Regions from separate parts of the Homo sapiens genome. Here all the other regions are linked to region 1. Evidence: fine-mapped expression QTL. A gene starts in region 1. Each other region holds a variant in brackets. All regions are shown on one strand. Distances are from middle to middle.

Region 1 (4,470 bases):
CTGTGTGTCCTGCGCAGGGGCCAGGGCAGCCCAAGGCTCAGCTCTGTCCTCCTGCCCAGACCTCGCTCAGCCCCCTGGACGCCGCCCCGCGCCCGCTGCCTCTCCTCTCCTCTCCTCCCAAAGGCTCCAGGACCATGTCTGCCTCTGAAGCCTGACGTTACCTCCCACTGCGATTTTATTGTAAACTCACTGCATTTATGTCAAGAGAGTTTGTACAGGTTTTGGAAAATGCACTGAAGAGTCCCCTTGTGCCTATTAGGACGGTAAGAACACACCAAGGAGAGATTATTTCATTATTTCTTTGATGCTGTTAGTAGGATCTACCCGAGGGGGAGGCACTCCGGGCTCCGCGGGACGAGAAGGCAGCCGAGCCCGCACCCGAGCAGGAGGGAAGCAGGAGCCGCAGCGTGGCCGCCGCACAGCTTCGGGGGTCCCCCGACTTCCCAGCTGCGAGTGTGGAATTTCTCAGGAGAACTAGACAGAAGCCCATCTCTGGGCAGCACTGAGTGGAAGGAGAAACCACAGGAGAGGAGAGGAAGTGTGGGGCGCGGGACCACCGTGGGGTGGGTGGGGGCCAAGCCGCCGGGCTGTGAGGCCTCAGCACCCCCTGCCCAGCACCCAGCACCCCAACTTCCCCTTCTGCCTTTGCGGATTCCAGGGCCTGCTGGACACCTGGTGCAGGGACAGAGCCGGGGCTGGGGGAGGAGCTCAGCTGCACTAGAGTCCAGCTGGAAGAGTCCAGCTGAAAGTCACCAGAGGCACCCCTTCCTCCTGGGGGGCTGCGCCTCGGCCTCCTCCAGGGCAGGTGCCCCTATGCCCCTCAAGTCCCAGCACCCAGCACCACAGAACCGCCCTGTCATCTCGGCCCCGGAACCTTGTGGGGAGCCAACTCCTGCGGAGGGCCGGGCAGCCCCGGGCGGAATGAGCCCCCTCCGCAAAGCCTGTCTGGGGAGCGGGGGAGGGGCGGCAGGTGCCCGGAGAAAGGCGAGATTGGAAGAGCGGCCGGGATGGTGGCGCTGCATACGGGCGACCTGCAGGGAGAACGGAAGCTGAGGCCGGGGTCAGGGGTGCGCGCTCCGCTCCTCCACTCCTGCGTGAAGGGCGGCCCACTCCCGAGCAGCTGCGCTGGGCGCCCGGCACGGACCCGTCTCCCTGCTCAGGTCGATCCCCGGCCGCGCTGCCCCCACCTGGAAGCCCAGTCCCCTGGGTGCGCCCCGCCTTGGGGTCCGAGCACCCTCACAGCCCGGCCCTGCCGCTTCCCTGCACCGTCTGCGGCTCCTTAAAGAACTGGGCGCGGTCGGGGCTCGCCCCGCACCGTCCTCGAGGCCCCGCCGCCAACCCACCCCACCCCAGGAGGCCGCGGCCGCGCTCATCCATCCCCCGCCGCACCGTCAACGCGCGTCCTGCGGGGCGGAGAGATCGGGGTCCGGTCGTCCCCGGGGGGCCCCAGAGCCAGGTGAGGGGCCCCGCCGCCCCCTGCCCAGCGGTTCCCACGACCCGCGGGTCGGCCGCGCCCTGCGCTGAGCGGATACCCGGCGGTCCGCGGGGCCTGAGCAGAGTCGGCCTTGTAAGGCAGAGGTCTCGGTGCGCCCGCGCGTCCCCGGGCCGGGTGGGGCGGCGGGGGCGGGGCTGCCAATGAGCGCGCGGGGCGGGACGCTGGGCGGGCGCCGGACGCTGGGGGCCGGGGGCGGGCCCGGGACCGGGCTGGGCGGGGCTGGGCGGTGCTGGGCGGGACGGGCGGGCGCGGGGCGGCGGCTGGAGAGCTCCGCTGAGCACCGGGTCGCGCGCGGCCGAGTCGCGGAGGCGCCTCCGCTGCAGTCGCTGCGTCTCCAAGGTAAGCGGGCGCGGGGCTCGGTCCCGCGGGCGCGGCGCGGGGGGCACCCGGGGGCGGAGACTGGGCCCGTCAGCCCCAGCAGCCACCTGCGCCGCAGCCCCTGCCCCCCGCGCTCCCCCGAGCCCCCTTCCCGGACCGCCCCGCGCGTCCCTGAGCCCCCGGATTGGGATGCCCGGAGTTCGGCGCTGCGGGCTCGGTGCGAGGACGCGACGGGGAGGCTTTGCAAAGGCCGCGAGCGGGGGTCACCGTCGGCCGCGCCAGGGACAGGTCTGTCACCGTCTCCGGGCCCTGTGCCTGGCGCTTTGGCCTTTCTTCGCGGCCACGGACGCCCCTGCAGCCCTTCCCTCCAGACCCTCCCCAGCTCGGGACTCGAACCGTTTCCCTATTCCCAGGCCTAGGGGGCCGCCGGTGTGAGGCGTGGGAAATTAGGGCGTGGAGGGCTGGAATGAAGTCACTGCCCGCAGCAGGTTTTGAGAGATCCCTGGCCACAGAAACGGCCCATCTCAGGGTCCTGACACCACCGCGTCCTGGCAGGTGGGGCTGTCAGACCGCCCCCCGCAGAGCCTCCAGCTGCCCCGGGTCTTGGCTACTGTCCGCGGGCCTGTGGCGATGGAGAGGCGCTGCCGGGACACCTTCCCGCACCCCTGGGAGCAGCGCCCGAAGATCTGAGGAGCCCTTTATTCTGCGGTTTCGGTTACGTAAACGGAGCCGAGGGAGGTGAGAAGCCTGTCCCTCCCGGGCAGTGGCGGGGCTGCTGTTTTGATAAGGGTTTTGGGGGGGCTGTTGTCTTGATGGGGGTTTGGGGGGCTGCTGTTTTGATAGGGGTTGGGAGGCTGCTATTTTGATACGGGGTTGGGGGCTGCTGTTTTGATAGGGGTTTGGGGGGCTGCTGTTTTGATAGGGGGTTGGAGGGCTGCTGTTTTGATAGGGTTGGGGGACTGCTGTTTTGATAGGGGGTTGGGAGCTGCAGTTTTGATAGGGGTTTGGGGGCTGCTGTTTTGATAGGGGGTTGGGAGGCTGCTGTTTTGATAGGTGGTTGGGAGGCTACTGTTTTGATAGGGGGTTGGGGGGCTGCTGTTTTGATAGGGGTTGGGGGCTGCTGTTTTGATAGGTGGTTGGGGGCTGCTGTTTTGATGGGGTCTGGGGGGCTGCTGTTTTGATGTGGGGTTGGGAGGCTGCTGTCTTGATGGGGGCTTAGGGGGGCTGCTGTTTTGATAGGGGGTTGGGGGCTGCTGTTTTGATAGGGGTTGGGAGGCTGCTGTTTTGATAGGGGTTGGGGGGCTGCTGTTTTGATGGGGTCTGGGGGCTGCTGTTTTGATGAGGGGTTGGGGGCTGCTGTTTTGATACGGGTTGGGGGGGCTGTTGTCTTGATGGGGGTTTGGGGGGCTGCTGTTTTGATGGGGGTTTAGGGGGCTGCTGTTTTGATGGGGGTTGAGGGCTGCTGTTTTGATGGGGGTTGAGGGCTGCTGTTTTGATGAGGGTTGGGGGCTGTTTTGATGGGTATTTGGGGGCTGCTGTTTTGATGGGGGTTGGGGGCTGCTGTTTTGATGGGGGTTGGGGGCTATTGTTTTGATGGGGTTTGGGGGGCTGCTGTTTTGATGGGTATTTGGGGGCTGCTGTTTTGATGGGGGTTGGGGGCTGCTGTTTTGATGGGGTTTGGGGGCTGCTGTTTTGATGGGGGTTGGGGGCTATTGTTTTGATGGGGGTTGGGGGGCTGCTGTTTTGATGGGGTGTTGCGTTCCCTCTCAGTGTCACCGCTGATCCACCTGGCATGTTTATTGGCTCTTCTGCTTGCAGGGCCCCTGGGGGACCGATAGAGGACTGGGCCCCTCCGCCCACCCCGGCCACCCCTCCCCGCCTGACTTCTCAGGGGGAGAGGTCTCCCCCCACGCCCAGCCAGCCCCTGCCCCTGGGAGGTGACCCAGCTCCCTGTGGCCTGGGACTAGGAGATGGGGCTGGACCAAGGCCGGGAAGGGGCAGGAAGTGGAGGGGAGTGAGGCAGCTGCAGCCTGATGCCGCCGCCTTGAACTGGGCTCTCGCGCCTGTCAGCCGCTCGGTGCCAGCGCCTCCCCACCACGTGATCCTCGGAGGGCCTGTGGGGGAGGGGCGGGCTCCCGGAGCGGCTGCAGAAGGCGAGCTCCAGGAGGGTGTGTGCGTTTTCCCGGGAGGGGTCTGCAGCTTTCATGGTTTCTAAACGGATCTCTGATTCAGAAAGGCGCCGGCATGAACTCGCTTTGCATCTTCACAAAACATGAAGTCATGGGGATTGGACCGCGTGTGCGTGGAGGAAGCTCCGCTGGTCACTGGCTGCGTTTTAATCTTACAGCTGCGGTTGGTCTATCTTCCCGAATTCCCTGAAGTTGCAATAAATGTTTTAGCGATTATACGAGGTTATAAATGCTCGTTGTGGAAATGAGCATAGAATGCTCACAGAAATGGTCAACAGGGGCTTCCTTTTGACCCCCTACCCTAATTTGCAAGCCTCACACTGGCAGTGGCTGCCCTAGGCCTGGGAATCGGTAAACAGGGTTCGTGCACCGGGCTGGGCAGGGCCCGGAGGGAGGGGCCGCAGGGGGCTTCCGTGGGCACAAAGGCCAAAGCGCCACACGCAGGGCTCAGGAGAACTTCCTGAAGAA
Region 2 (4,470 bases), 98 kb after region 1:
TCAAAGTTGTCAGATGTATATGCAGGGAGTAGCTCATAATGTTCGTGCATTGCCCTCTTAATGTCTGTGGGTCAATAGTGATATATCCTCTTTCATTATTGATACTGGAAATTTATCTCTCTTTCTCCCTTGCTAATCAGTCTGGTTAAAGCTTTATCAATTTTACTGATCTTTTCAAAGAACCAGCCTCTAGTTTATTGATTTTTCTTTGTTGTCTTTCTGTTTTCTATTTCATTGGTTTCTCTTATCTTTATTCTTTCCTTCCTTCTGCCTGCTTTCAGTTTAATTTGCTCCTATTTTCGTAATTTCTTAAGGTGGAAGCTTAGATTGTTGATTTATAATTTTCTTCTGTTTTTAATATTAGCATTTCTTTTCTAACTAAATGCTTGTAGGGCTATAAGCATTTAGTTCTATAAATTTCTCTCTAAGCACTGTTTCATTTTGCTATATTTTTCATTTTCATTCAGTTCAAGTGATTTCCAGTTTTTCTGAGCCATTCTCCTCAACATTTGCATTGTCTAAGGAGTGTGTTGTTTAATTTCCACCTATTTGGAGGTTTTCTAGGCATTTTTATATTATTGATTTCTAGTTTAACACCATTGTAGGTTTTTTGTATTTTAAATTTTTTCACATGCATTTTATGACCAAAAAGAAAGTGTATGTAGATGTTGTTTGGCAGAACGTTTTATAAATGTTAGTTAGGTCCAGTTGGTTCCTGGAGCTGGTCAGTTCTTCCATATCCTGCTAATTTACTGTCCACTTTTCTATCAGCTACTGAGAGAGGAGTTGTTATGGACTGAATTGTGTCCCACAAAATTCACATGTTGAAGCCCTAACCCCCAATGTAACTGTATTTAGAGACAGGGCCTGTAAGGAGGTGATTATGGTTGCAAGAAGTCATATGAGGGGGTCCGATTCAATAGGACTTATGTCCTTACAAGAAGATGGAAAGAAGCCAGGAATCATTCACTCTCCACACCAGCACAAAAAAATACCATGTGAGAACACTGAGAAGTCAACCCCAACAGCCTTCATCTTGGTCCTCCAGCTTCCAGAATGGTGAGAAAACAAATTTTTGCCCTTTAAGGCCCCAGTCTGTGGTATTTTGACATGGCAGCCCTAACCAACTGAGATGGGAATGTTGGGGTCACCAATTCCAGTATGGAGCTGCCTGTTCCCTTTCAGGCAGCTCTATCGTCTTTGTCTTGTGTGTTTGGAAGCCCTATCGTTGGGTGCATATGTGTTTAGGATTACTAGGTCTTCTTGGGGAGTTGATCCTTTGTCATTATGCAACGTCCCTCTTTACTCTTAGGAATTTTCCTTGCTCTGAAATCTACTTTGTCACTCCAGTTTTTTTAATTGGTGTTTGCTTGGCATATCTTTTTCTATCCTTTTATGTTTAATCTGCCTATATTTTGTATTTAAAGAGGGTTTTTATAGACAGCCTGTAGATAAGACTTGCCTTTATCCAGTCTGATAATTTCTGCCTTTAATCAGTATGTTTAGATCATCTACATTTATATTCATTACTGATGTGTCTGAATTTAGGTCCAGCATTTCTTGCATGTCCTCTATTTGGCACCTCTGATTTTTTCTCCTTTTCCCCTTTGCATGTCTTCTTTTGGATTATTGGGATATTTTGTGGTATTTCATTTTGATTTATCTAATGGTTTCTTGAATTCTATCTCTGTGTATTGTCATTCTAAGGATTGCAATATACATTCTAACTCCTCCTCACCTTGCCAGTCTATGCAGAATTAATATTTTACCACTTCTGGCTGGAATGCTGGGACCTTGTCCCCACCAAGGCCCCTTCACTGTGCCCTTTGTCACAGTCATCGTATTGCACCTGCACATATTGAAAATTCAACCAAGCAATGTTGTTAATTGTTGCTTTCAACCATCATATGTACTTTAAAGACTCATCTACATGCTGTCTACAAGAAACTCATTTTCAATGTAATGATACAGACTGTTTCACAGTCAAAGGATGGGAAAAGAGCTATCAGGCCAACATCAGTTACACAAAAATCCTCAAACAGCTCTATTCATGTGAGACAAAATAGATTCAGAGCAAGAAAAGTCACTTGGGGTAAAGAGGAGAACAATAGTGTGCTGTGTTTCCTTGGACATTTACTGCTTGTCTTGCCCTTTCTTCCTTCTTGGGGTTGTGGGTTTTCCTCTGTATCTTCCCTCAAGCTGAAGAACTTGCTTTGGCATCTTTTAAAGCAGGTGTGCCGGCAACAAATTCTCTTAGTGCGTCCTCACTGGAGATCATCAATTTTTCTTTCATTTCCGAAGGGTGTTCTCGCGTCGATTTTTCCTTCGTTTCCGAAGGGTGTTCTCGCATCGATTTTTCTTTCGTTTCCGAAGGGTGTTCTCGCGTCGACTTTTCTTCATTTCTGAAGGGTGTTCTCGCGTCGATTTTTCCTTCATTTCCGAAGGGTGTTCTCACGTCGACTTTTCCTTCATTTCC[G/A]AAGGGTGTTCTCACGTTGATTTTTCATTTCTGAAGGGTGTTCTCGCATCGATTTTTCCTTCGTTTCCAAAGGGTGTTCTCGCATTGATTTTTCCTTCATTTCTGAAGGGTATTCTCGTGTTGATTTTTAATTCATTTCTGAAGGGTATTTTCGGTCGATTTTTTCATTTCTGAAGGGTATTCTTGCATCGATTTTTCCTCCATTTCTGAAATTCTCACAGATGCACAACTCTGGCTTGGTGCTTCCTTTGGTTTCTTGTTTTCAATGTTCTTCCACATCCTGGTCTGCACAGCATCTGATGAGAAACTGCAGCCGGGATTATTGTGCCCTGTAGGGGATGTGTCATTTCTGTCTGACTGCTTCTCTGGAACTAATTAAATAAGTTAAACCAGTGCTTTTTCTCCAGGAAACACTTGGACACCTGTCTTTTATCACCTACTTGTCACTGTGGGAAACTCAGCTCTCAGCCCAGGGGGTAAAGCAGATGTTGACAGGTGGTTGGAAATCAATTGCCCTCCTTGGCTGACATGAGCCCCAGGGAGCATGTTGACTAATCAGTGGCCTTTGGGGAAAGAGCAGTATCAGGTCCAGAGAGAGGGAACCATCCCCAGTGTATCCAAAAGAGGAAGCACACTGTTGTGGGTACGATTGAGTTCCCCCTCAGAAGGTATGTCCAAATCCCAACACCCAGTGCCTTATTTGGAAATCAGGTCTTTGCAGATGTCATTAAATAAGATGAGGTCACACTGGACTGGAGTGAGCCTAATGATGACACCCTTATAAGAGAGAGAAATTTGGACACACAGACACACAGAGAAGGAAGGCCAGCATAGTGTGATGTTGTCACAAGCCAGGGACAACCCAGAATTGTGGACAACACCAGAAAGGGAAAGAGGCAAGGAAAGTTCCTCCCTGGAGCCTTTGGAGGGTGCATGGTCCTGTGGACACCTTGAATTACACGTCTCATCTCTGAAACAGTGACAGAATACACTTCCAGTGTTTCCAGCCATGCGGTGTGCAATAATTTGTTACAGAAGTCCTAGGAAACACGTACACACACCTTTTCTTTGTGTATTTAGCCTCTTTGTCCTTAAATCCCATAAGTCTGCTTTGGCCAAAGATGCAGGTCCCCACTTCTTGGCCGTAAAGAGAAGGTTTCCCTGGCCTGGCCACATTGCTTTTTGGTTCAGCCTCATTGCTGACTTAGGGACAACAGGAACTTATCCCCAGGAGAGGTTCTGAGGGAAGCAAGAGGCTCTGTAGCCTCTTGCCAGGGGCCCGGCGTCTCTTCAGTATGGACAGAATTGAACAAGTGAATGGCCTGCTCCTGAGTCCCACTGGCTAAATTAGGGGTCGGGCTTTGCTTTCCACCCCGAGTGTGAGTGCAGCAGCCAGGCTCCCCATCACAGCACAGGGTGGCACATGGATGGGGCAGTGCCTCTTCCACAGGAATGCCAGCAAAGCCACATCCTGAGGCCATAAGGTGGCTCCAGTGGTCAGTAAAGATCTGGCCTCGGCAACGTGTGGGACTCGTGGGACATGTCACGGAACAGAGTGTCTAATGGCAACAGGCTGGGCTGTGACTTCTGCCCTGGGCCAGGGACATGCACAGTGTGTCTTTTTGTTTTTGTTGTTGTTTTTGAGACGGAGTCTCGCTGTCACCCAGGCTGGAGTGCAGTGGTGTAATCTCAGCTCACTACAAACTCCACCTACCTGGTTCAAGTGATCCTCCTGCCTCAGCCTCCTGAGTAGCTGGAATTACAGGCACACGCCACCACACCTGGCTAATTTTTGTATTTTTAGTAGAGACGGGGTTTCACCATGATGGCCAGGCTGGTCTCAAACTCCTGACCTCAGGTGATCCACCTACATCGGCCACCCAAAGTGCTGGGATTATAAGTGTGAGCCACCGCACATGGCCCACAGTGCATCTTTAAATATTAAACAGGAAAAGAAATCAACCCAGGAAATTCCACTTCCAAAAATGGAAGTC
Region 3 (4,470 bases), 53 kb after region 1:
CAGCTCTGTCTCGTCCCAGGCTCAGAAGGGCAAGGGGTGTGCCTGACTGTGTCCCACAGAAAAGACATCATCAGTGACGGCGCCCAGCTCACTTTCCAGACAGCCGGTCACGTGTGTTTCAGTATAAAGGCTTCCAGACGGGGGGCCACACGTGTTTAAATATAGAGGCTTCCAGAGAAGGGGCCATGTGTGCTTAAATCCAGAGGCTTCCACCAGATGAGGGGCCATGTGTGTTTAAATACAGAGGCTTCCAGAGGAGGGGCCACGTTGGTTTAAAAGCAGAGGCTTCTGGACGGGGGACCACGTGTGCTTAAATGCAGAGGCTTCTAGATGGGGGACCACGTGTGTTTAAATGCAGAGGCTTCTAGACGGGGGACCACGTGTGTTCAAATGCAGAGGCTTCTGGACGGGGGACCACGTGTGTTTAAATGCACAGGCTTCTGGACGGGGGACCACGTGTGCTTAAATGCAGAGGCTTCTAGACGGGGGACCACGTGTGTTTAAATGCACAGGCTTCTAGACGGGGGACCACGTGTGCTTAAATGCACAGGCTTCTAGACGGGGGACCACGTGTGTTCAAATGCAGAGGCTTCTGGACGGGGGACCACGTGTGTTTAAATGCACAGGCTTCTGGACGGGGGACCACGTGTGTTTAAATGCACAGGCTTCTGGACGGGGGACCACGTGTGCTTAAATGCAGAGGCTTCTGGACCGGGGACCACGTGTGCTTAAATGCACAGGCTTCTAGACGGGGGACCACGTGTGCTTAAATGCACAGGCTTCTGGATGGGGGATGGGGGGCCATGTGTGTTTAAATGCAGAGACTTCTGGACGGGGGATGGGGACCCACGTGTGTTTAAATACAGAGGCTTCCAGATGGAGGAGGCCCACATGTGTTTAAATACAGAGGCTTCCAGATGAAGGCCACGTGCAGAGGCTTCCAGGCGGGGTGGGGGGGCCACGTGCGTTTAAACAGAGGCTGCCTGTGTTGTTTTGCTGTGTTTTTCTTCTCTAAAGAGGAAGCGTTGTGTGGGATCTCTGAGATGTTGGTTCCCATGAAACGGACAGTATGTACTTGTCAGACAAGTTCAGAGGCAGTTTTCGAAGCCGTCCCGGGCCGACTTCACTCGCAATTTAAAGATGCTGACAAGGCCCCTCTGGATGTGCACATCCTCACGTGGCTCTGCCCTCACACCAGGACTCCCGGAGGGCGGCTTCTGCCTGGGTGTGGCTCTCTGACCACCAGCTCCCTGTGCTAAGGATGCCAGCAGCCCGTGGGGAGGCCCTTGCAGCGTGGAGGGAGCCTGGGAGGATCCTGTCCCGTGAGGCCTCAGATGAGACGGTGGCCCCAGCCCACGGCTGAGACAGAGCCCCCATGAGGCCTCAGATGAGACGGCGGCCCCGGCCCACGGCTGAGACGGAAGGAGGGAGCCTGGCTGAGCTGAGCCTGAGGCCCAATACACAGAAATCCAAGGTGATAAATGCAGGTTTTCAGCTGCTGGTTTTGGGGTAACTTGCCCTGTAGCCCCAGCTCACCATGGGACACTGGCCGTCATCTCCTTCATAAAAGGAGAGTGGCCTCGGTTTTCCCCAGTTCGAGGCCCTGAGAGATGGGTCAGCAAGACAAAGTCACGTCCAGGCCTGGCTCCTGCAGCACCCGGCACTGCCCAGTGGTGGAGGGTCCCTTGGGCCCGGGGAGAGAAGGTGGCCAGCGCCACTGCTGTCTCCAAAGTGCTCCAGGCCTGTTGTGAGACAGGGCAGGCCGCGTTCCGGGGGTGGCCGGGTCCCGGGCAGGGAGTGGAGACATGGGGCTGCAGAGATGGCAGTTGGGACAGTGTGGCATCAAGGAGCTGCCCTCGTTCCTGGAAGTCAGAGCCATGTTTCCCCCAGTCACATGGACACAGACACAGCGCCAGGGCGGGCTCACCAGCTCCTTGTGTGTGTGGTGCAGCTCCGCCGTCACCTCGCTCATCTCCCGGGCGTGCTGCTGCTGCTGCTCAGCAAGGCGGCTTTGCAGGGACTTACTCTCCAGAGCCAGGGAGCCGACATCTTCACCCACCATCGCAGAGCTGTCCTGAGCTGCTGTGAATTCTTCAACAGATGACAAGATGTGTCTTGCCTGAGCTAGGAGTGAAAACCAAATATTACATTAGCACTTAGGCTTAAAGGATGAAATGTAAACAAAATCGGCTCAGTATGTTTTGAATCACACAGACGATGCCTCAAAAAGACGACAGGTAGGGAGAGGGGAAAGGGGTGTTGGCGCCACAAAACCACCTCAGGCTCTGTGCGTCCACACACGGGCAGGGTGGGAACTGAAGAAAGAGAAGAGGTGACCTCCAAGAAAAGGGGCAACCAGGGGCCGCCACGTCTCAAGGTTTCAGTGGCGCCGCCACAACTCGCTGCGCCTTCCACAAGCACCGACTGCCCTGTGTGGAAACCACCATGCAGACGACAGCTGGCAACTCCACACTGGGACAGTGGCCTGGGCCTGGGACAGTCCCCCCGCCACCGACGATGGCAAGCTCAGGAGGCTCCCACAGGACACCAGCCTAGGGAGAGGGGAGGTTTATGGGGCTGGGGTCCAGGTGGGCTGCGACTGCAGGGCGTCCTCATTCTAGG[A/T]GCTGAGGGGCTATAACACTGCAAGGCGCAGTCAGACAGCTCAGAGCCGTGCCCAGGGTCTGCGGGGAGAAGCACACTGGCTAGGCTCCTGAGGGACACACACAGCCACACCCCAGGATGCAGGACAAAGAGAAGGTGCCCCTGGGGACGCGGCATCTCCTGGTCTCCCAGTGTGATCCTGGATGAGGGAGGCCCCAGTGTGCTCATGTACGGGTTGCCTGGTAGAATCCAACAGACCCAAGTCCTCTCTGGGGAGGGACCACCCTCCTGGGTCCCACACCAACCAAAAGCTCTGCAATCCAGGCCCAGCACAGGCTACACGTCTGGGTCGGGGGAGAAGATGCTGAGCAGCTTCCAAACTCCAAATCCCCATGTGATCACAGCCATCAGAACCAAGCCCCTTTGGACAGCATTTTGAGCAAAATGAGGTGACAGGCCCCCCAACACCCCAGAGCACAGCGGGGGACCCACAGGCCCAGGCCCATGTGGTGTCTCCCGAGAGCCCTGGACACTGTGAGATGCAAAGACTGCCAGGGAGGGCCCAGGCGCGGGACCACCACACGCTCGTGGGAGGGGACATAGGAGACCTGGGGCTGAGATGACTCCTAGGTCACCACACGCAGAGGACCCCGGAACCCACACAGACGCTGCCTACAGGGCAAGAGCAGTGGCCGCCCTGACTCACCAAGGAATGCCTCGTTGCTGTGCAGGGACCTGCAGCCGCCCCAGCTCCTGTCCACCAGGTCCAAGAGCGTCTCCAGGAGCGCCGCCTGCAGGGCCGTCTTCTTCCCGGGTAGAGCCGAGTGTGACCCGGGAGACGGCTGTGATGGAAACAACAGCATGAGGCCAGCGAGTCAGTAACTGAGGTCCTGAATGCCAGCAGGTGCCCAAGCGCACCCTGGGATGCCCTCGCACCACGAAGGGGAGGACAGGTGCCCTGAGGCCCCAGCCCTGAGCCAGGTGGAGGGCGGCTCAGCAGTGCCTGCCCAGTGAGGCTTAGCCAGGTGCACCGGTCCTGGATGAGTGAGGTCTCGATGACAGGACAGGACGGGGCCCACACATTCCCAACTCAAGCAGGCCCCAGACTCCTCCCCTCAACCCAGACAGGGAAGCGGAAGACACATCCAGGCCGCAGTCAGAGCCTGTGTTCAAAAGGAGCTGCCCAGGAAGCAGCCTGCACCCACAGTCAGGCTGGTAGAGGGTGCCAGGCGCTGTCCCCAGCAATGGCCCGGAGTCAAACAATAACCCTGAAACAGACCGCCCACCTCCCCCATCTCTGCCTCCTTCCAGCTCAGGACCTGCCGGGGACGTCAAACACGCCCCACCCAGCTCTGGGACCCCCCCCCACCCCATGCTGCTACGGAGCTGCCTCTAGCTCCGGCCATGCCTCCCTTCCTGTCCCACAGTTCCGCACCTTCAAGCTCCTCTGCCTGCATGGGAGTCTGAAGCCCTCGTTGTGGCAAGTACCAAGTGAACAGCCCCTGCCTGTTCCCTTCTGGGTGGTCTGCACTCATGTCTACAGCAGGTGTGTCTCAACGCCTCTGACTGGGCCTGCGCCAGTTGTCCCCCTGACCTCTAGGTCACCCTGAGGGTGGAGTGACTCGGTCTCTCATCACAGCGACCTCCAGGATCCTCCCCTCACGAAAGGGTCATCAATGGCTCAGCCGGCCAAGATGCCCGATTCCAGCTTTGGAGACAAATGCCCTGTGCACCGTAAGGCAGAGTCCCCTCTCTCCACCACGGGGCTTCCACTCAGAACAGCAGCGCAGGACAGCGTGTGGCACAGAGGCACACGTCCAACAAAACGCAGCAGCAAGCACCCTGGAACCCTAAGTGTGATGATTCCCT
Region 4 (4,000 bases), 200 kb before region 1:
TCCAGTTAGGGTGTCCATCCCTCCACAACAGTGTGGGAAGCTCTTCCTTCCCTCAGACTGGCCAAAACCACGGCATTATCAGATCTCAGTGTGCACAAAGCTCTGAGCATGCACAAACATGAGTCCTAACGTATGAATGGGGAGGTCCACCTCACGAGCAGAACTTAGTACCAAGCCTGTCCTTCACAGCTGGTTCTTACAGGACAGGAATTGTACTGCTGTAAGTGATAAGTCTTCCTTAGGAATGTTTCAGGTTGTTTTTATACTGGTGCCAGAATCGCCCCAATGCCTCCACGCCCTCACACAAAGCTCCTCTAACCCATACGCATCAACTCAGATGGTGGGTGAGGTGGCCATGCATGGGATGAGATAAAGGAATTCTATAAGGCAAGCCCATCTTCTCATCTCTGTGGCCCCACACCTCCTATGGTCCTAGCACACACTGAGCACTTTATAAACATTTGCTGATTGAAAGAATGAGACATGGCACACAGGCCTTACCAGCGCAGCCCACTATTGTACAGCACTGCATTCTCATTCCTGGTTTCCAATCTGTTACTGCTATACTGAGAGCACCCCGACATCAGGGCTACTTCCTACTCCCAGCACCTGGCTCCTGACAGCTAGTGAAAAGAACTTGTCTAGCCACCCAAACCAACAGAGAAGTGAACCTGTTTCTGACAACAGGCTATGAAAACGGCAAGACATTCATGATACAACCTTTTGTATTCAGCTAACTGTTCCTTGGCCCAGCAAATTAGTAACTTACCTGTGAGTCTTTAACCTTTAATTCTGTGTCAATAATAGACACAGACTGCACATTTCTGGTCAAAAAAGGTTCATCAAACTCAGTCCATGTGTAATCACCAAACACAATATTATGTCTGTTGAGTAGCTTTCTAACACTCAGGTTTATGTCTTCTTTCTTTGCAGTGCTAAAAAAAGAAGCCAAAACACACATAAATGATCTTAGTTCAAAAACAAAATGTTAAAATGAAGTGTTTTGAAAAACTCAGACAATACATAAGAAAGCCCAGTAGTTAACAGGGTAAGTTGGAGTTGGCCTGCCTGGGACCAAATCTAGAGCCACCCCTTGCCTGTGGGTCCTCTACCAGCTGTGCCCTGAAGAAGCTGTGCCTCAGCTCCCAGTTAGAAAAAGGGGACAACAGTAAGAGTTCTCGCTATGCTGGGCTACTGTGAAGTCATTAATACACTCAAAGTGTTTAGGACGATACCTGGCACATAGTAAGCACGCAATAATGTTGGCTTTCACTATTACTAATGAAGTTCCACAGCTGTGGGGTCAGGCCTGGGGTCTGCATTGTAACAAGTCTCCAATAGCCGTGATTCGTGCTGAGAAAATCTAATGCTTTCAGCTTGGTATCCAGGGCTTCCCTTGGTCCCCCTTGCTGCAGTCCTCCTAACACCTCCCCTTTCTACAACAGTGACCTGGTCCCGGATCACACCTCTGTGCCCTGCTATGCACTGTCCCAGCTTACTGGCCTGATCAACTGCAGTCACCCTCTAAGTCCTATTCAATGTCTGCCTCCCTCTGAGCCCTCCTGGACAGGCTCCTCAGAGCCAGGCAGGTGACATGTGGCCCCTTTGCAATCGTCCCAGCACCCTACAAGCAGCGACCACCATGCATAGTGCGGTTGTGTGCAGGTGTCTATGAACTCTGGTGCAGTTGTAC[G/A]TAGGTGTCTGTCCTCTAGGTGCAGCTGTGCTCTGGTGTGATTATGCCTAGCGTCTCTGGGCCCAGGTGTGGTTGTACATGGGGTGTCTCTAGGCTGCGGTGGCACTGTGTACAGGTGTCTCTGAGCGCTAAGGTGTTTACACAGGTGTCGCCAGGCTGTGATGGGGCTTTGTGCAGGTGTCTCTGGGCCCTGGTGCAATTATGCTGACGTGTCTGAACTCCAGCACCTAGAAAATACCCAGTCAACAGCTATTCTGTTAAAGGAAAGGTCTCTTCCTCTGCATCCCCTCTGAGGCTGGTGGTCTCACCTGACCTCAATCCACCCTCCGTGGACATAAGGAGGGTCTGTGAAGGTCTGGCCCCGCCGCTGAGTTCCCCCCACTCCAGGGAGCAGCACAGCCCACAGGCCCCACCATACCATGAACTGACTTGGTCACAAATGAGTGGGATGTGCTTTGAACCCTAAAAATTTAACATCGAGTCCGTGAGGAACGGGAACAATTAAAGGGTCTGAGAAGCAGTGGCTCAAAGAATAACCACCCAGCTTTCGGCTGAGACTAGAGCTCTCTGTAATGCGCAGCCATCCTATTCTCCAACGTGGGACTCAGGGCCACATCAATGCACTGGAGGACAGCCGGGGCAGGGGCAGGGTCAGGGCCAGGTCCGTGAGCTGAGGTCGGGTCGGGGCTCAATCTGTGAGCTGGGGTCCTGCGCGCAGGGCTCGGGTCGGCCGGGTCAGTGCCCTGCGGTGGGGTCGCGTCATTGCGCTAGGATCCGGTCGGGGCCCGGCGGCCTGTGCGCCCGGGTCCAGTCGGGCCGGATCAGTACCCTGGGGTTCGGTCGCATCAGAATCAGTGCGCTGGGGTCGGGGCTCGGTGCACGCGCTGGGGTCGGGGCGGGTGGGTGCCCAGAGGATGTGTCGGACAGGTCCGGCTCACCTGCTGCCGCGCTGATGCACCTCCACGTGGACCGTTGGCGACTCGGCCACACAGGGAAGCGCCTGCTTCAGGTCGCCCACGGCCTCGTCCATGGCGCCCCCGAGAGCAGTGGGGACCCAACCAGGGCGCGGCCGCCGCCACCTCACGCCCAGCGTCGCCGCCACAGCCGCTGCCTCAGCCCGCGGGCCCCGCCCTAGCTTCGAATCTGCCGCGCGAGGCGCACCACCTCCTGACCCGGAAGCGCTCGGGCCCGGCAGGGCCACTTCCTGCCGCGGCCCCGCCTCGCCCCGTTTCCGGCGCGGCCCAGCGAGCTCGGCAACCTCGGCGCAGCGAGCGCGGGCGGCCAGCCAGGGCCAGGGGGCGGTGGCGGCCAAGGTCCGACCGGGTGCCAGCTGTTCCCAGCCCCCGCCTCGGGCCCGCCGCCGGCGCCGCCATGGGCAAGAAGCACAAGAAGCACAAGGCCGAGTGGCGCTCGTCCTACGAGGGTGAGGCGGCGGCGCTTTGTGACGCGCGGCGGGCGGGGTCCCGGGCACGGGGGAGGAGTTCCGGGCACGCGGACGGGGGTCCTGGGCACCGGGCGAGGTCCTGGCCACGAGGGAGGGGTTCTGGGCACGCGGGAGGGGGTCCTGGGATTTCGGGCAGGGAACCGGGCACACGTGAGGGGTCCTGGGTAGGCGCTTACGTTCCTGGTAGAGGGTTCTGGGTTCGAGGCTGCAAGCCCACTCACCCCGGTCCTGGAGACTAGGGAAGCATCTGTGCTGGCTTTTGTGTGGAGCTCAGGGAGAAGCTGGGCTGCCCTTTCTCCCGCCTTTCCCTCCCTCTCCCTTGCTCCCGCAGCAGCTCCATGGGTGTCAGCGGGCAGCACGGGCGCCTGCAGGAAGTCAGGCGAGGGTGAACCGAAGTGCTGGGGGTTTCTAGGAGGGAGATCGGGCTCCGGGGTTCCAGGTCCCTCTTAATCCATCTTCTTGAACGAGTAATGTGAACAACATCCCACAGGGCCTCTGGTGAGGACACCGTGGCTCGAAAGGGACCTGAAGCTCCCTGCGGAGGGGAAGGGAGAACAAGGAGGCAGTGACATGCCGCCACTGTGGTCTTCCCTTCCGTCTTTCCCTGCTGGTTGGCAGCCCCGCTGTACTCCTTAGGGAGGCCTTTCCCTCTTAGCACCTTCACGTCTCACCTGGCTGCGTGGCGTTTGCACCTGAGCACGCGGGTAGAACTCGGTCTGTGTCTGTGCAGATTATGCCGACAAGCCCCTGGAGAAGCCTCTAAAGCTAGTCCTGAAGGTCGGAGGAAGTGAAGTGACTGAACTCTCAGGATCCGGCCACGACTCCAGTTACTATGATGACAGGTCAGACCATGAGCGAGAGAG
Region 5 (4,470 bases), 41 kb before region 1:
AAAATTATTGGCTGTTAATTATTTTGCTTGGAGAGGCTAGAGATAGGACCCCAATCCCTTCTAGTGTGTAGAGTTTCTGCTGAGAAATCTGCTGCTAATATGAGAGGTTTTCCTTTAGAGGTTACCTGATGTTTTGCCTCCCAGCTCTTAAGATTCTTTGATTTGTGTCGACTGTAGATAACCTGATGACCATGTGCCTCGGTGATGATCTTTTTGCAATGAATTTCCCAGGCATTCTTTGAGCTTCTTGTCTTTGGATGTCTAGAACTCTAGCAAGGCCAGGGAAGGTTTCCTTGATCATTTCCTCAAATAAGTTTTCCAAACTTGTGGATTTGTCTGCTTTGTCAGGAACACTATTTTTAGGTTTGGCTGTTTAACATAATCCCTAAGTTCCTGGAGGCTTTGTTCTTTTTTAAAATTATTTTTTTCCTCTTTGTCTGGCTGGGTTATTTAAAAAGCCTTGTTTTTGAGTTCTGAAGTTCTTTGTTCTACTTGTTAGATCCTGCTGTTGAAAGTTTCTGGTGCATTTTCCATTTCTCTTAGTGTGTCTTTTGTTCCAGAAGTTGTGACTGTGTTTTCTTTAGGATCTCTATTTCCCTGGAGCATTTTTCATCTATATCCTGTATTGATTTTTAAATTTCTTTAAGTTGGTTATCACCTGTCTTTGGTATCTCCTTGAGTAGTTTAATAATCAACCTTCTGAATTCTTTCCAGCAATTCTGATTTTCTTCTTGGTTTGGATCTCTCACTGGGGAGCTAGTGTGGTCTTTTGAGGGTGGAATAGAGCCCTGTTTCATGATATTACCAGGATTACTCGTCTGATTCCTTCTCATGTGTGTAGATTATTTCAGTGGGAAAATCTGGAACTCAAGGCTGCTGGTCAGATTCTTTAGTCCCATGGGGTGGTCCCTGATTTGTGCACTGCCCCTTCCCCTAGAGATGGAGCTTCCTGCAAACCAGACAGCAGTGATTGCTATTGTTCTTCTGGGTCTCTCCACCCAGCAGGGCTACCAGGCTGGTGCTGGGGAATGTCTGCACAGAGTCCTGTGATGTGATCCGTCCTCAGGTCTCCCAGCTGTGGATGCGAGCACCTGCTCCGGTGGAGGTGACAGGGGACCGAAGTGGACTCTGTGGAGGTCCTCGGCGGCCGATAGGTTTACTGTGCTGACTTTCTCAGAGGCTGGTTATTCTAGCAGTGAAGTTGTCACATGGGCAGACTCAGGACCTCTGGTTATCCAGGATGTTGCAGGAGGTGGAATAAGCTCTTGTTTTCTCCTTCCTAGGAGCAGGGTTGTTCTGTCATGAGTTGCTGTCATGTCCTGAGCTGATTGGCCTCCAGCCAGGAGGTGGCACTTTTGAGACAGCAGCGGAGTTGTCACCTGTTCTGTGGAATTTGCAGTGGCCTATGGCATCTTCCAAAGGCTCTGTGACTTTTTGTTTTTTCTGGTATGCTGCTGTGGTGGTTCCTGGAGTGAAAGGCCACAGTATGAGTCTCCACATGCTGTTCTGTCTCTCCATGTGGGAGCTGCATATCAGACCTGTCTCCCATCTGCCATCACTCTTCAGAACCCGTCTTAGGCACTGGTGTAGGGCAAGTCTCACACGGTGGGTGGAGGGACTGCTTTGCATTGTCCCAGTGGCAAAGAGTCATGGTCCTTTACACGAGAAGCTTCTTACGTGTGCCACTGCACATAACGCAGGAGTACTTAGACAACCTCCCAGGAGCTGCTGGTCTACAAGTTTTTGAGACATGTGTGCCCCACAGCAGTGGTGCTGACACGACGCGGTGCAGCCTCCAGTGCCACCCTGAGCCCCCCCACAAAGCTGAGATGAGTTTCTCTCCTCCTTCCTGTCCCACCAGAGTCAAGGCCAAGAGCTCCCTGCTGATTTACAAATGCCCATGTCACTTCTGCACTTCAGTAAACCAGGACGGGGATTCGAAGGCACAGGTAAGTTGCAGTCACCAGCAATGCACCCTGAGGACAGGGCCGTGTGCAGAATATGTGGTCTCGGGTCCCCCAAGCTGAGGTTAAGGCAGTATTCAGAAT[A/G]GAAGCACTCTGTGTCCAAGGGTGCTGCTCACATGGGAATGATGGTGGGTGGAGCACAGAAGAGAGATGGAGTGAGAGGCAGGAATGCTTCCCAGCTGTGGGTGACAGAGACAGATGGGTACCAAAGTGGGAGCCCCCAGCACTGGAGCACCACCAAGAAGCTGCGGTGATGGGCAGATGCCCAGGGCAGGGTCTGAAGTGCCCAGAACATGCAGCGAGGGACAGTGCTGTGATAAAGGATGGAAGGAGATTGGTAGCCATGGCAGAAGCCACATGCTGTGTTTTTAAAATAAAATGCTCAGGAAGGACTGTGTGTGGGAGACAGATGGGAATAGACGATGTGTGTGTGGTCACACGTACAAGTGTATGGTGTGTGGTTGCACATATGTGGGGGGGTGTGGTTATGTGTGTGGTTTTGTGTGTAGTGTGTGGTCAGTTGTATATGTGTGTGAATGGTGTGTGTTTGTTACATGGACTCTGTGTCCATCCTTCACAGGAAAAGACCAGCGCGGCTGCCGGCTTTAGGGCCACATATTTCTGTTCCTGCTCTGGGGTCAGCTTCCAGTGGTTTCTGCTGGGTCATTATTTATTTTTTAGAGATGAGATCTCACTCCATCACCCAACATGGATGGCAGTGGTGGGATAATGGCTCACTGCAGCCTCCAACTCCTGGGCTCAAGCAATTGTCCCACCTCAGCCTCCCGAATAGCCGAAAGTACAGGTGTGTGCCACCACACCCAGCCAATTTATTTTTTGTTTTTTATTTCTTAAGAGATGGGATCTCACTCTCTTGTCCAGGCTTGTTTGGAACTTCTGGTCTCAAGTGATTCCCCAGGCTCAGGGGAATTAGAGGCGTGAGCCTCTAATAGCACAGGGATTAGAGGCGTGAGCCTCCATGCCAGGCCACAGGCTGGTCCTTTTGAGCAGGATTTGTGAGGGGGCCAGTTTCTGGAGGTTACAGGTGACTTGTCCTTCCCTGTGGGGGCAGGGCCGCCTCACCGCACTTCCCCAGGATTTCAGGGAACAGGCTCCTGTGACTTGGAAATGAAAATGGATCACCCAACCTGGAGGAACAGTGAGGCTGGTGTCCAAGACTTGCCCCTTGCCTGCACTTCCAGCAAAGATTTGGAGACACTCAGTGGAAACCAATCGAGCCCCCAGCCCACCCCCGCCCAGACTCAGCCACCAAAGTTCCCTCACTGCATGTGGCACACGGGCTCATGGGAGTTTCTCTGCCTGCGATTGTCCACGTTGACACCTTCTGCACAGGTGCATTTGTGAGTCCCCTCGGTGTCTCTGCAGCATCTATGTGTGGATGAATAGTGAAGCCACATGAGGCCTGGTCTGAAGCAGAGAAGATCCGCTCAGCATCACGTTGAATCCCAAGCCCGCATCTCCGTGGGCTCCAGGACAATCCTATGAAAATGACACCGTCGGTTCATTGTTCACATCGGGGAGGAGAATTCCGTCTGAAAATGAGCGTGACTTCACTGACACCCAAGTCCGTGGCACAGCCCTGTGCTGAGCTCCACAGACCTACAGTCCATCGCCTCCCCTTCGAGTGGGCCCAGGGCTGCAGACAGCATTGTCCAAAGAAGACACCCTGACTCGATGAATGGAACAAACTGGAAACTCCAGAAACAAGCCCTTCTTTACATTTCTGGTGTTTGGCCTAAATGGAAGGTGCCAAGGTGAGGCAATGGGGAGACATGGAAGGGTTTGTAATGACTGTGCTGCAGCAGCTGCATAACCACATGCCAAACACACACACACAGCTCAGTCCCACCTAGAAAGCAGTGCACAATCCATCAGAGACCTCATAGTAAGAGGGGGAAACTTTAACATTCCTACAAAAATCCTAGAATATCTCCGGAGTCTTGTGTTAGGCAAACTCTTCTTTGATAGATACCAAAAACACTATTTCACAAAACGGATACATTTGACTTTAAGCATTTAAAATTGTTTCTTCCATTGTCACCAGTAAAAGAATGAAAATATCAGCCACAGGCTGAAATAAAATATTTACAAGTCATATACTTTTATCCAGAATATTTAAAGAACCATGAAAACTCAAAAATACACAACAGCTCAGTTTTTAAATGGGTGAAAGATTGAACACGTTCTTCACCAAGGCAACAATATCCATGAGAAATAAAGCCCACAAAATGGTGCTCAACATCATTTGCCACCAGGGAACCACCAGCTAAAATCACAATAAGATACTGCTGCACCCCATTAGAGTAGCTGCAAGAAAGCAGATTAAGGGTACCATCCAGGCACAAAGCTTCACACCTGAAATCCCAGAGCTTTGGGTGGCCCACAAGGCAGGAGGATCCCTTGAGGCCAGGAGTTTGAGACCACTATGGGCAACATAGCAAGACCCTGCCTCTAAAAAATATAAATAAAAAAAGGTGATCAATAT
Region 6 (4,470 bases), 70 kb before region 1:
ACAGAGTGCTGATTGGTGTATTTACAATCCCTTAGCTAGACATAAAGATTCTCCAAGTCCCCACCAGATTAGCTAGATACAGAGTGCTGATTGGTGCATTTACAAACCTCGAGCTAGACATAGGGTGCTGATTGGTGTATTTACAATCCCTTAGCTAGACATAAAGATTCTCCAAGTCCCCACCAGATTAGCTAGATACAGAGTGCTGATTGGTGCATTTACAAACTTCGAGCTAGACATAGGGTGCTGATTGGTGTATTTACAGTCCCTTAGCTAGACATAAAGGTTCTCCAAGTCCCCACCAGATTAGCTAGATACAGAGTGCTGATTGGTGCATTTACAAACTTCGAGCTAGACATAGGGTGCTGATTGGTGTATTTACAGTCCCTTAGCTAGACATAAAGGTTCTCCAAGTCCCCACCAGATTAGCTAGATACAGAGTGCTGATTGGTGCATTTACAAACTTCGAGCTAGACATAGGGTGCTGATTGGTGTATTTACAGTCCCTTAGCTAGACATAAAGGTTCTCCAAGTCCCCACTAGACTCAGGAGCCCAGCTGGCTTCACCTAGTGGCTCCCACACCGGGGGCAGGTGGAGCTGCCTGCCAGTCCCGTGCCATGTGCCCGCACTCCTCAGCCCTTGGGTGGTGGATGGGACCGGGTGCCGCAGAGCAGGGGACGGTGCTCACTGGGGAGGCTCGGGCTGCGCAGGAGCCCATGGCAGCGGGGAGGCTCAGGCATGGCGGGCTGCAGGTCCTGAGCCCTGCCCCGCAGGGAGGCAGCTGAGGCCCAGTGAGAATTGAGCACAGCTACAGCAGACCAGCACTCCTGGGGGACCTGGCGCACCCTCCACAGCTGCTGGCCTAGGTGCTAAGCCCCTCACTGCCCGGGGCCGGCAGTGCCGGCCGGCTGCTCTGAGTGCAGGGCCCGCTGAGCCCATGCCCACCCCGAACTAGTGCTGGGTTCCCGCCTGTGCCTCTCCCTTCATACCTCCCCACAAGCCGAGGGAGCCGGCTCTGGCCTCGGCCAGCCCAGAGAGGGACTCCCACAGTGCAGCAGTGGGCTGAAGGGCCCCTCGAGTGTGGCCAGAGTGGGCACCGAGGCCGAGGAGGTGCCGAGAGTGAGCGAGGGCTGCCAGGGCTGCCAGCGTGCTGTCACCTCTCAACACCACTGCGTGGTCCTTGGGCTGGGCCATCCCGGGCAAGTCTCTGGTAAATGGTGAGCGTGGTGTGTATCGCTGTGGTGCAGGCAGGGAGGTGTAGGGGCTGGATGCAGAGTGAGCAGGTGCCATGAGGACAGCAGCCTGCCAGCCTGAGTGCCTCAGCCATGGGCAAGGCCATGTCTCTCTTTCCTGAAACTTGTTCCTGTGGCGTCTTTCAGTTTATAGAGGTAGAGAGTACAGTCAAGCGGACCCGCAGGTGCCAGTCACCTGCTTCAACAGTGAAGCTTTTGCTAACCTTGTTTTATATCTCACATGCATGTGTATCCGAGTAACCTTTAAAAATCTCGGACATCGGGAAATTTCACCTGTAAATGCTCCAGTTTGTGTCTAACAAACTTTTATTTTTATAACACCATGCTTTATCTCACTTAAAAATATCTCACTTAAAAATTATATAGCCATTTCTTAACATCCTGTATTCGTTCTTATCCATGTGGCCATTTCCCCAATTTTCGAAACAAGTCTCTACAGATGCGTGGCTCACATCAGGAGCCCACGTGCCATGGGGCTGCTGTGTCCCTGAAGCCCCCTTTCCTCCATCCGTTTTGCTCCCAGGCCTTTGACTGGTCAGAGAAACTGATGCCTTTGCCCACAGGAGGCCCCTCAGTCTAGACTTGGCTGGATTTTTCCCCAAGTGCAACAGTCTCCCTTGTGGGAAGGCTTTTGATAATGAATTCAGTTTCTTTGATAAAAAAGCTATTCTGTTTCTCTGTTTTCTTGTTTCTATTTTCATAGGTTGTATTTTTCTTCTTCTTCTTCTTTTTTTTTTTTTTCCCGAGATGGGAGTCTCACTCTTGTCACCCAGGCTGGAGTGCAGTGGTGTGATCTCGACTCACTGCAACCTCTGCCTCCTGGGTTCAAACAATCCTCCCGTCCCAGCCTCCTGAGTATCTGGGACTACAGGTGTGTGCCACCACGCCCAGCTAATTTTTGTATTTTTCAGTGGAGACAGGATTTCACCATATTGGCCAGTCTGGTCT[T/C]GAACTCCTGACCTTGTGATCCACCCACCTCGGTCTCCCAAAGTGCTGGGATTATAGGCGTGAGCCACCGCGCCTAGCTGATAGGTTGTGTTTTTCAGGAAATTGGAGTATTTCATGTAATTTGTCATATTTCTTGGAATACAGGTGTTTACAGTGTTTCCCACAATCCTTTTCCCATCTGTAGGGTCTGAGTGCTGCGCCTTCCTTCCTCACTATCCTGGCCATTTGTGTCTTCCTACCTCTTCTTCATCAGTCTTCCTGGGGCTTATCCCTTTTATTGATCTTGAAAAGAGTCAGCTTTTTAATTATTAATTTTCTCTATTGTTTGCCTGTTTTTATTCTATTAAAAAAAAATTCTGCTTTTATTTTTACTACTTCCTTCAACTGACCTTGGGTTTACTTTGCTTTTTTTTCTATCATCTTAAGACGGAAACTTAGGTCATTGATTGTAGACCTTTCTTACTTTTTAATGTGTGTTTAAAGCTATGTATTTTCTGTGAGCACATGCACAGACCCGGGCATGCACAGACAGATACACACTGCCAGTAAGGCTTTTGGCCTCTCATTCAACCACCCCATCTGGCTTAGTGATTCAAGGGTGTCTCCCTGGGGATTTGGGGCTCAGTCTCTGGGTCTTGGGGTGCCTTGTGCAGCTAAAGTTCCCTTGGGAGGTCAGGCCACACCCTATCTACAAGTCTGAAATGGGCTGGGTCCAGCTGGTCTCACAGAGAGCCTTGCCAGGGGTCCAAGGATGTGCTTTAGTGAGAGACGTGGGTGCTGACTGTGGCATACACTCATCCTGGGCGCTATCTTGCTGCATCCCTCTTGCAACCTGCGTCTTGTTTGTAGGTGGCTGTCTGGGGCTGTGAGTGGCCGTTGAGGCTGTGAGTGGCCATCTGGAGCTGGCATGACTGTCCAGGGCTGGGAGTGGCCATCTGGGCTGTGAGTGGCTGGCCGGGACTGTGAGTGGCCGGCTGGGACTGTGAGTGGCTGTCCAGGGCTGTGAGTTGAGTGGCCATCTGGGCTGTGAGTGGCCGTCTGGGGCTGGGAGTGACTGTCTGGGGCCATGAGTGGCTGTCTGGGCTGTGAGTGGCTGTCTGGGCTGCAAGTGGGCATCCAGGGCTGTGAGTGGCTCTCCAGGGCTGTGAGTTGAGTGGCCCTCTTGGCTGTGAGTGGCCATCATGGCTGTGAGTGGCCAGCCAGGACTGTGAGTGGCTGCCCAGGGCTGTGAGTTGAGTGGCTGTCTGGGGCTAGGAGTGTCTGTCCAGGGCTGTGAGTGGCTGTCTGGGGCTAGGGGTGGCTGTCTGGTCTGTGAGAGGCTGTCCAGGGCTGTGAGTAGAAGACTTTGTGTCCCCCTGTCTGCTCCGTGGCCTTCCCAATCCTAAGGGATTTAGGGAAGCAGTGCTCACTTCCCAAGAGGCCTTTTCTGAGAGGCCCTGAGTGTGCCCAGTCACCAGAGTGGGGGTTCCATGGGGTTCTAAGGCCTGGACACACATGTGGGGGTTCAGGCTTCTACCATGGGAGGTGCTGGAACGTGGCAACCCACGTGTCCACCCGGCACACACTGCCAGCCTTGCGCCCCTCCACTCATCAGGAGGACAGGTCATAGTTCTGAGTAGTGGCCTCTCTCTGCCAGGCCCAAGGTGTGCCCTGTGGCCCTGCTGGCATTCCCCAAGATCCCCTGCCATTGGCCCAGCTTCTGCTGTGGCCCAGCCTCCGAGTTCTCCACCTACATCCCTGAGTCCCCATACCCCCAAAGCCTGGGTCCTAGATGGCCTCCCCCACCTCCAGGGCCCAGAAATCCACAGACCCACAGAGCTGCATGGCAGCCCCATTGGCCCCGGGTGTCCTGCAGTGAGGGATGAGGATGTCACTAAAGCCCACAGTCACTAACCCTGTGCTGCACGGCCCACCTCCCTGCTCTAGCACATGCCCTCCAGACACGGGTGTCCTCCTGTATTGCACCTTCATGGCAGGTGAGAAGACAGGCTGTGATCGGACCGTGGTCAAGGCAGTCCACGCCAACATTCTCCAACAGCCCCCAGATGTGCTTGACAGGATTTTTTAATCCAGAATCCGGCCGAGGTTCTGGGCATGTTGCGACGGAGTCTCTTGGTGTGTTTAGGTCAGCACAGCGCCCGCCTGCCTTTTCCTGGCAGCTGCTGGTATCTCCTTGACCACAGCATCATGGCATATCCAGACCAGTGTCTTGCTCCACCACCTGGGGGTCTGTGTGGTTGAAGCTGAGCAGTTTCAGAAGAACGCTGC
Region 7 (4,470 bases), 24 kb after region 1:
GGCACCCGTCTCCTGCGCTTGGCCAGTGGTGGGCGTGGCCTTGGCTGTCCACTTTGCCCCATGAGCCTGACCAGGCAACACAGGTCATTTGAGAAGGTGATCTCCAAACAAACAGCCAGAAACTGACTTCAGGTGCACAGACCAAAGCCCTGCCCAGGCCGAGACTGGGGTGGATGGAGGCAGCCGAGCCCCTGGGGCCCCCTAGAGAAGGTCGGGCCCCTCAGATCTGCCCGGGGTCCCTCTGGGCCCCAAGTCCACGTCCCACCAAGGGCCACCTCTTCCTAGTGATGTCCACAGGGCGGTGACTACACACGCCCCACCCCCGCCCCTCCCCAGGAAAACGAAAAGGCCGGCAGCAACGCAAAATTAATTAGCAGCAAGCGCAGGGTGTGCGCCCAGAGGGAGACAGTGCGCTGATCCCAGGCGGCCCCTCAGGCAGGGGGGAGCCTTCGGTAGCCAGACCTCCGGAGCTCAGGCAGCCCCCCGACCGGCTGTGTGGGGGCTTCATGGTGGGTGTGCCTGGGGTTAGAGCTGGTGCAGCAATGGGAGGGCCCTGGCCCTCAGCCCGCCCTGGGGCCTGAGCTGCCGTGGCCCAGTGGACGTTGCCATCCATCCTCTGAGCCAAGTAGGGTGCAGGAAGGGCTCCGGTTTCCTGAGATGAGGGGAGAAGCCCTCTCAGGTGGCCAGACATCACCTCACCTGCCCCCAGGTGCTCAGCTGCTGGTGGAGTCACTTATGAGGGGAGAATAGGCAGGGCCTGGAGGGCTTGCCACCGACCTCTGTCGGCCCCGGGAAACGTTGCTCTAGGTCCTCTGTATCTTGCTGGGGCTTGCGGGAGGCAGGGGCGGCCAACAGGCATGGGGAACCCCAAGGCTGGGTCCTGCTGGAACGGGACCACTGGACCCTCCTGGAGCAGTGAGAACTCGGAGCGACGTGCAGGATGGCGATGCCAGACAGGGCTCCCCTAAGGCCGCGTCCCTACCAGGTAGGAACCTCCCCAGAAGCTCCCCCTCCCCCCGTGGGGCCCAGCAGCCAGGGAGTCCTTCCCAGCCTCCTCAGGTCTCAGGGGCTAATGGAAGATCCCAGAGGTTGGTGCCCTGGGGGAGCCGCAGCCCCTCTCTCTCAGACTCGCCTAAGTACAGGGAGAGGCTGTTTCCCCAGAGATTCCCCTCCACAGCCCCCAGCTTCCCACCTGTGGCAGCCTCTGGACAGGGCACTCCAGCCACAGCAGCTGCAGGCCCAGAGAGCCCAGGGGAGCTGGTAGCTGTCACCTCGCCCGCCGGCCCCCGCCCCTCAGAGAGGGCACCATGGGAGGGCATTCCTGATTCACAAGGGTGCTGGATGCACAGTCCCGAGCCCAGCGGGGCCTGTGACGTCCGCCCCGGAGGAACAGGCCTCAGTCCTCGGAGGGCTGTCCTGGCCTGAGCCCAGCTCCTGGAGGCCCCAGGCCGGGTCCCAGTGTCCCTGAGAGACTGAACCAGGCCCAGAGGCCAGGGGACTCAGAGCCTGGGAAGCAAGTCCAGGCCCCGCAGGGCATCGTGTATGAGCAGCGGCTGCGTCCTGCTGGGCCGGCTTTGGGGCAGGGCGCCGGGCTGGGGAGAGCATGGGCAATGAGGATGCCGAGCTCCACACTCGGAGGCTCCTCCAGCACCCTGGTCTCTGGAGGACAGGCCCACTCTATGTCAGGAGAGCCGGGCAGCCAGACTGAGTGTCTCTGGGGAAGAGGCAGGCACCGCTGTCCTAGAACTCCTGAGGACTGCCCCAGGCGGGGGGCACCCGGGTCTCCTGGGGAGAGCTCCCCGCCCGTGTGGGGCAGAGACCCGGGCGCCCTTTCCCC[G/A]AGACACTCGGGGAGCGCGCAGAGCAGGTGTCCGGATCTGAATGTCGCCTCTGATGGGGGAGCCCCTCAGCCATCCCCCTCCCGCCGAGTGACTCATGCTGGTGGTGCCTGGCTCCGAGGCCGTCAGAAAGGGCTGCGTGCCTCAGCACTGGTCACCAGGCTGGCAGTCAGGCCTGGCGTCCGCATGTCAGCTTGGGCAGGGTGGGAATAGAAGACAGGAGAGCCTTTGACGGCCCAGGACAGACAGAGGCCCCAAGGGCCCCAGAGAGTCAACACCCCCACAGGGCCCAATGGGCACTGTCAGTTCCAGGCACTGTGGGCTGCCTGGGGTGGCCTGGCTCTTCTAGCACCACAGGGAACGTGCGGGTGTCCACGCCGAGCGCGTCAAGGGGCTAAATCCACCCCCAACACCGCGGACCCCCACGCCACAGAGCTGCCCAGGGCACCTCCGGCTCACCGGGCTCACCAGCGCCCCCTGGGGGATGCTGCTGGACAACAGCGCCCTATGGCCGGCGGGTCTGGAATGTGCCCTGCGTGGCTGCCCTCAGCAGTCCAGGCCCCGCCCTGGGGCTCTGTCTCCCCAAAGCCCCCTCCGGACACAGCGAGGCCTCCGCTCCCCTCCCTGGGACCCCATGAGGCGTGAGGGTCTGAGCTGTGGGACCCCGAGCACTTGGTGTGTTTCTCAGCGCGATTTCTTCTTTGGCTCAGCGCTGTTGATGGTGTCTGTTGTGTCTTTAGGACACGCGTGTAAAGTGTATGGGAACCCTCAGGTGCTGTTTAAACACAGCATCCGCCTTGGGGTCTGGGAATCACCCAGCGGCACCTCCGTGCCTGGCTCCAAGCCTGGCCACTTGGCACCCACCGCGTTGGGTGCGTATCCTGGGCTTGTTCTCGAGGGGTGGGGGTGCTGTCCACGTGCGCACACATCACAGCACTGTGGTCTGGCCGCTGCTGAAGGGCACTGGATTGTTTGGGGTTTGGTGACTACGAGCAGAACAGTGGTAAACATTTGCGTTTATGTGTGAGCCTCTGTTTTCATTTCTCTTGAGCAAGGACCCAGGAACGGGACTGCTGGGCCACCTTTGGCTGTGATGAGAAGCTGTCCACAGTGGCTCTGCCGCGTTGCTCGGCCGGGTGTGGACGAGGCCCCCACCCCGCGGCCTGCTCAGCTCGAGGTGCCGGCAGTTTATTTGATTGTCTGAGCCCCCTGGAGAGTGTGCAGGGGCCTCGCTGTGGTTTCCATCTGCACTTCCCTGACGGCGCCCACGCGGCCCCCTCTCCGTGTGCTTGTCCGCACTTCCCTGACGGCGCCCACGCGGCCCCCTCTCTGTGTGCTTGTCGGTACTTCCCTGACGAGGCCCACGCGGACCCCTCTCCAGTGTGCTTGTCCGCACTTCCCTGACGGCGCCCACACGGCCCCCTCTCTGTGTGCTTGTCGGTACTTCCCTGACGGCGCCCACGCGGACCCCTCTCCGTGTGCTTGTCCGCACTTCCCTGACGGCGCCCACACGGCCCCCTCTCTGTGTGCTTGTCGGTACTTCCCTGACGGCGCCCACGCGGACCCCTCTCCGTGTGCTTGTCGGTACTTCCCTGACGGGGCCCACGCGGACCCCTCTCCGTGTGCTTGTCGGTACTTCCCTGATGGGGCCCACGCGGACCCCTCTCCAGTGTGCTTGTCGGTACTTCCCTGACGGCGCCCACACGGCCCCCTCTCTGTGTGCTTGTCGGTACTTCCCTGACGGCGCCCACACGGCCCCCTCTCTGTGTGCTTGTCCGCACTTCCCTGACGGCGCCCACACGGCCCCCTCTCTGTGTGCTTGTCGGTACTTCCCTGACGGCGCCCACACGGCCCCCTCTCTGTGTGCTTGTCGGTACTTCCCTGACGGCGCCCACGCGGACCCCTCTCCGTGTGCTTGTCTGTACTTCCCTGATGGGGCCCACGCGGACCCCTCTCCGTGTGCTTGTCTGCATGCACGTGTCTTCTCTGGTGGTGTCTGCTTCAAATATTCTGCCCGTCTTTTCACATGGATTTTTTTTCTTACTGCTGAGTTTTAAGGTTCCTTTGTGTATCTCAGAGACAAGTCCTTTCTCAGGCATGTCTCCTAGTCTGTGGCTTGTCTTCTCATTCCCTTAACGGTGTCTTCTGAGAGCAGAGTTTCGAACGTTTTGATGAAGTCTAGTTCATCCATTTTTTCCACTATAGGCCATGTTTTGTTGCCATTTCTAAGAAATCTTCGCCTAACCCCAGGTCACAGAGATCTTCTCTTTGGTGTTCTTCTAGAAGTTTTAGTTTCATAATTAGGACCGTCATCTATTTTGAGTTAGTTTTGTATATAGTGTGCAGTATAGACCAAAGTGCATTTTAATTTGCACAGGGATCACCAGTTGCTCCAGCTCCACTTGTGGAAGAAACAGTCCTTTCTCTCTGGCTTGCCTCTGCACCTGTAGACATCGGGGGGGCAGCATGCATGTGGCTGAGCCAGACTCCCCCTGGGCTGCGGGGCTGGCCGCGTGCCCGTGCCCACGTCGCTGCCACTTTGCAGTCAAGCCTCGATGAGCTTTGGAGTTGGGTAGTCAGTCTTCTGACTCTGTTCTCATTTCTTGAAATCGTTTTGGCTATTCTAGGCCCTCTG

Which allele goes with the higher level. Positions count from the first base shown, and alleles are read on the strand shown. Sizes are in standard deviations (SD) of each study's normalised expression. Not every link is listed here.
As copies of A replace G in region 2, the expression in lymphoblastoid cells of the gene that starts at base 1,760 in region 1 goes down (moderate effect, 0.55 SD a copy in GTEx).

What was found. PIP is the estimated chance that this variant, and not a neighbour inherited with it, causes the effect.
Region 2: its variant is fine-mapped to the expression of TPPP in lymphoblastoid cells (GTEx, PIP above 0.99).
Region 3: its variant is fine-mapped to the expression of TPPP in whole blood (TOPMed, PIP above 0.99).
Region 4: its variant is fine-mapped to the expression of TPPP in whole blood (TOPMed, PIP above 0.99).
Region 5: its variant is fine-mapped to the expression of TPPP in whole blood (INTERVAL, PIP above 0.99).
Region 6: its variant is fine-mapped to the expression of TPPP in whole blood (INTERVAL, PIP above 0.99).
Region 7: its variant is fine-mapped to the expression of TPPP in putamen (GTEx, PIP above 0.99).

What each region holds. Positions count from the first base shown.
Region 1 is chr5:690,642-695,111 of GRCh38, reverse strand. It overlaps TPPP (tubulin polymerization promoting protein), which reads left to right and starts at 1,760. Exons shown (of 4, transcript NM_007030.3): 1 at 1,760-1,834. LOC101929898 (a long non-coding RNA gene) reads right to left here and starts at 1,572. Exons shown (of 2, transcript XR_925675.4): 1 at 1,390-1,572; 2 at 1-1,031. RefSeq lists enhancers at 1-838, 1,752-2,334 and a silencer at 1,508-1,757.
Region 2 is chr5:593,078-597,547 of GRCh38, reverse strand. No RefSeq gene overlaps it. Among named protein-coding and RNA genes, the nearest start is that of CEP72-DT, 17 kb to the left of the region's middle. The variant G/A (reference allele first, on the strand shown) is at 2,477.
Region 3 is chr5:638,062-642,531 of GRCh38, reverse strand. CEP72 (centrosomal protein 72) reads right to left here. Exons shown (of 12, transcript NM_018140.4): 8 at 3,308-3,443; 9 at 1,928-2,124. Among named protein-coding and RNA genes, the nearest start is that of CEP72, 28 kb to the right of the region's middle. The variant A/T (reference allele first, on the strand shown) is at 2,623.
Region 4 is chr5:891,722-895,721 of GRCh38, reverse strand. BRD9 (bromodomain containing 9) reads left to right here and starts at 2,921. Exons shown (of 16, transcript NM_023924.5): 1 at 2,921-3,116; 2 at 3,868-4,000. The coding sequence starts at 3,065. TRIP13 (thyroid hormone receptor interactor 13) reads right to left here and starts at 2,838. Exons shown (of 13, transcript NM_004237.4): 1 at 2,632-2,838; 2 at 770-935. The coding sequence starts at 2,723. RefSeq lists silencers at 2,552-3,171, 3,362-3,580 and an enhancer at 2,920-3,552. The variant G/A (reference allele first, on the strand shown) is at 1,694.
Region 5 is chr5:731,231-735,700 of GRCh38, reverse strand. It overlaps ZDHHC11B (zDHHC palmitoyltransferase 11B (putative)), which reads left to right. Exons shown (of 14, transcript NM_001351303.2): 11 at 1,862-1,949. Among named protein-coding and RNA genes, the nearest start is that of TPPP, 40 kb to the right of the region's middle. The variant A/G (reference allele first, on the strand shown) is at 2,049.
Region 6 is chr5:760,899-765,368 of GRCh38, reverse strand. The region is part of intron 4 of ZDHHC11B (zDHHC palmitoyltransferase 11B (putative)); the gene reads left to right. Among named protein-coding and RNA genes, the nearest start is that of ZDHHC11B, 22 kb to the left of the region's middle. The variant T/C (reference allele first, on the strand shown) is at 2,203.
Region 7 is chr5:667,108-671,577 of GRCh38, reverse strand. All of the region lies in intron 2 of TPPP (tubulin polymerization promoting protein), which reads left to right. It also overlaps a transcript of CEP72 not described here. Among named protein-coding and RNA genes, the nearest start is that of TPPP, 24 kb to the left of the region's middle. RefSeq lists enhancers at 315-484, 1,773-2,527. The variant G/A (reference allele first, on the strand shown) is at 1,838.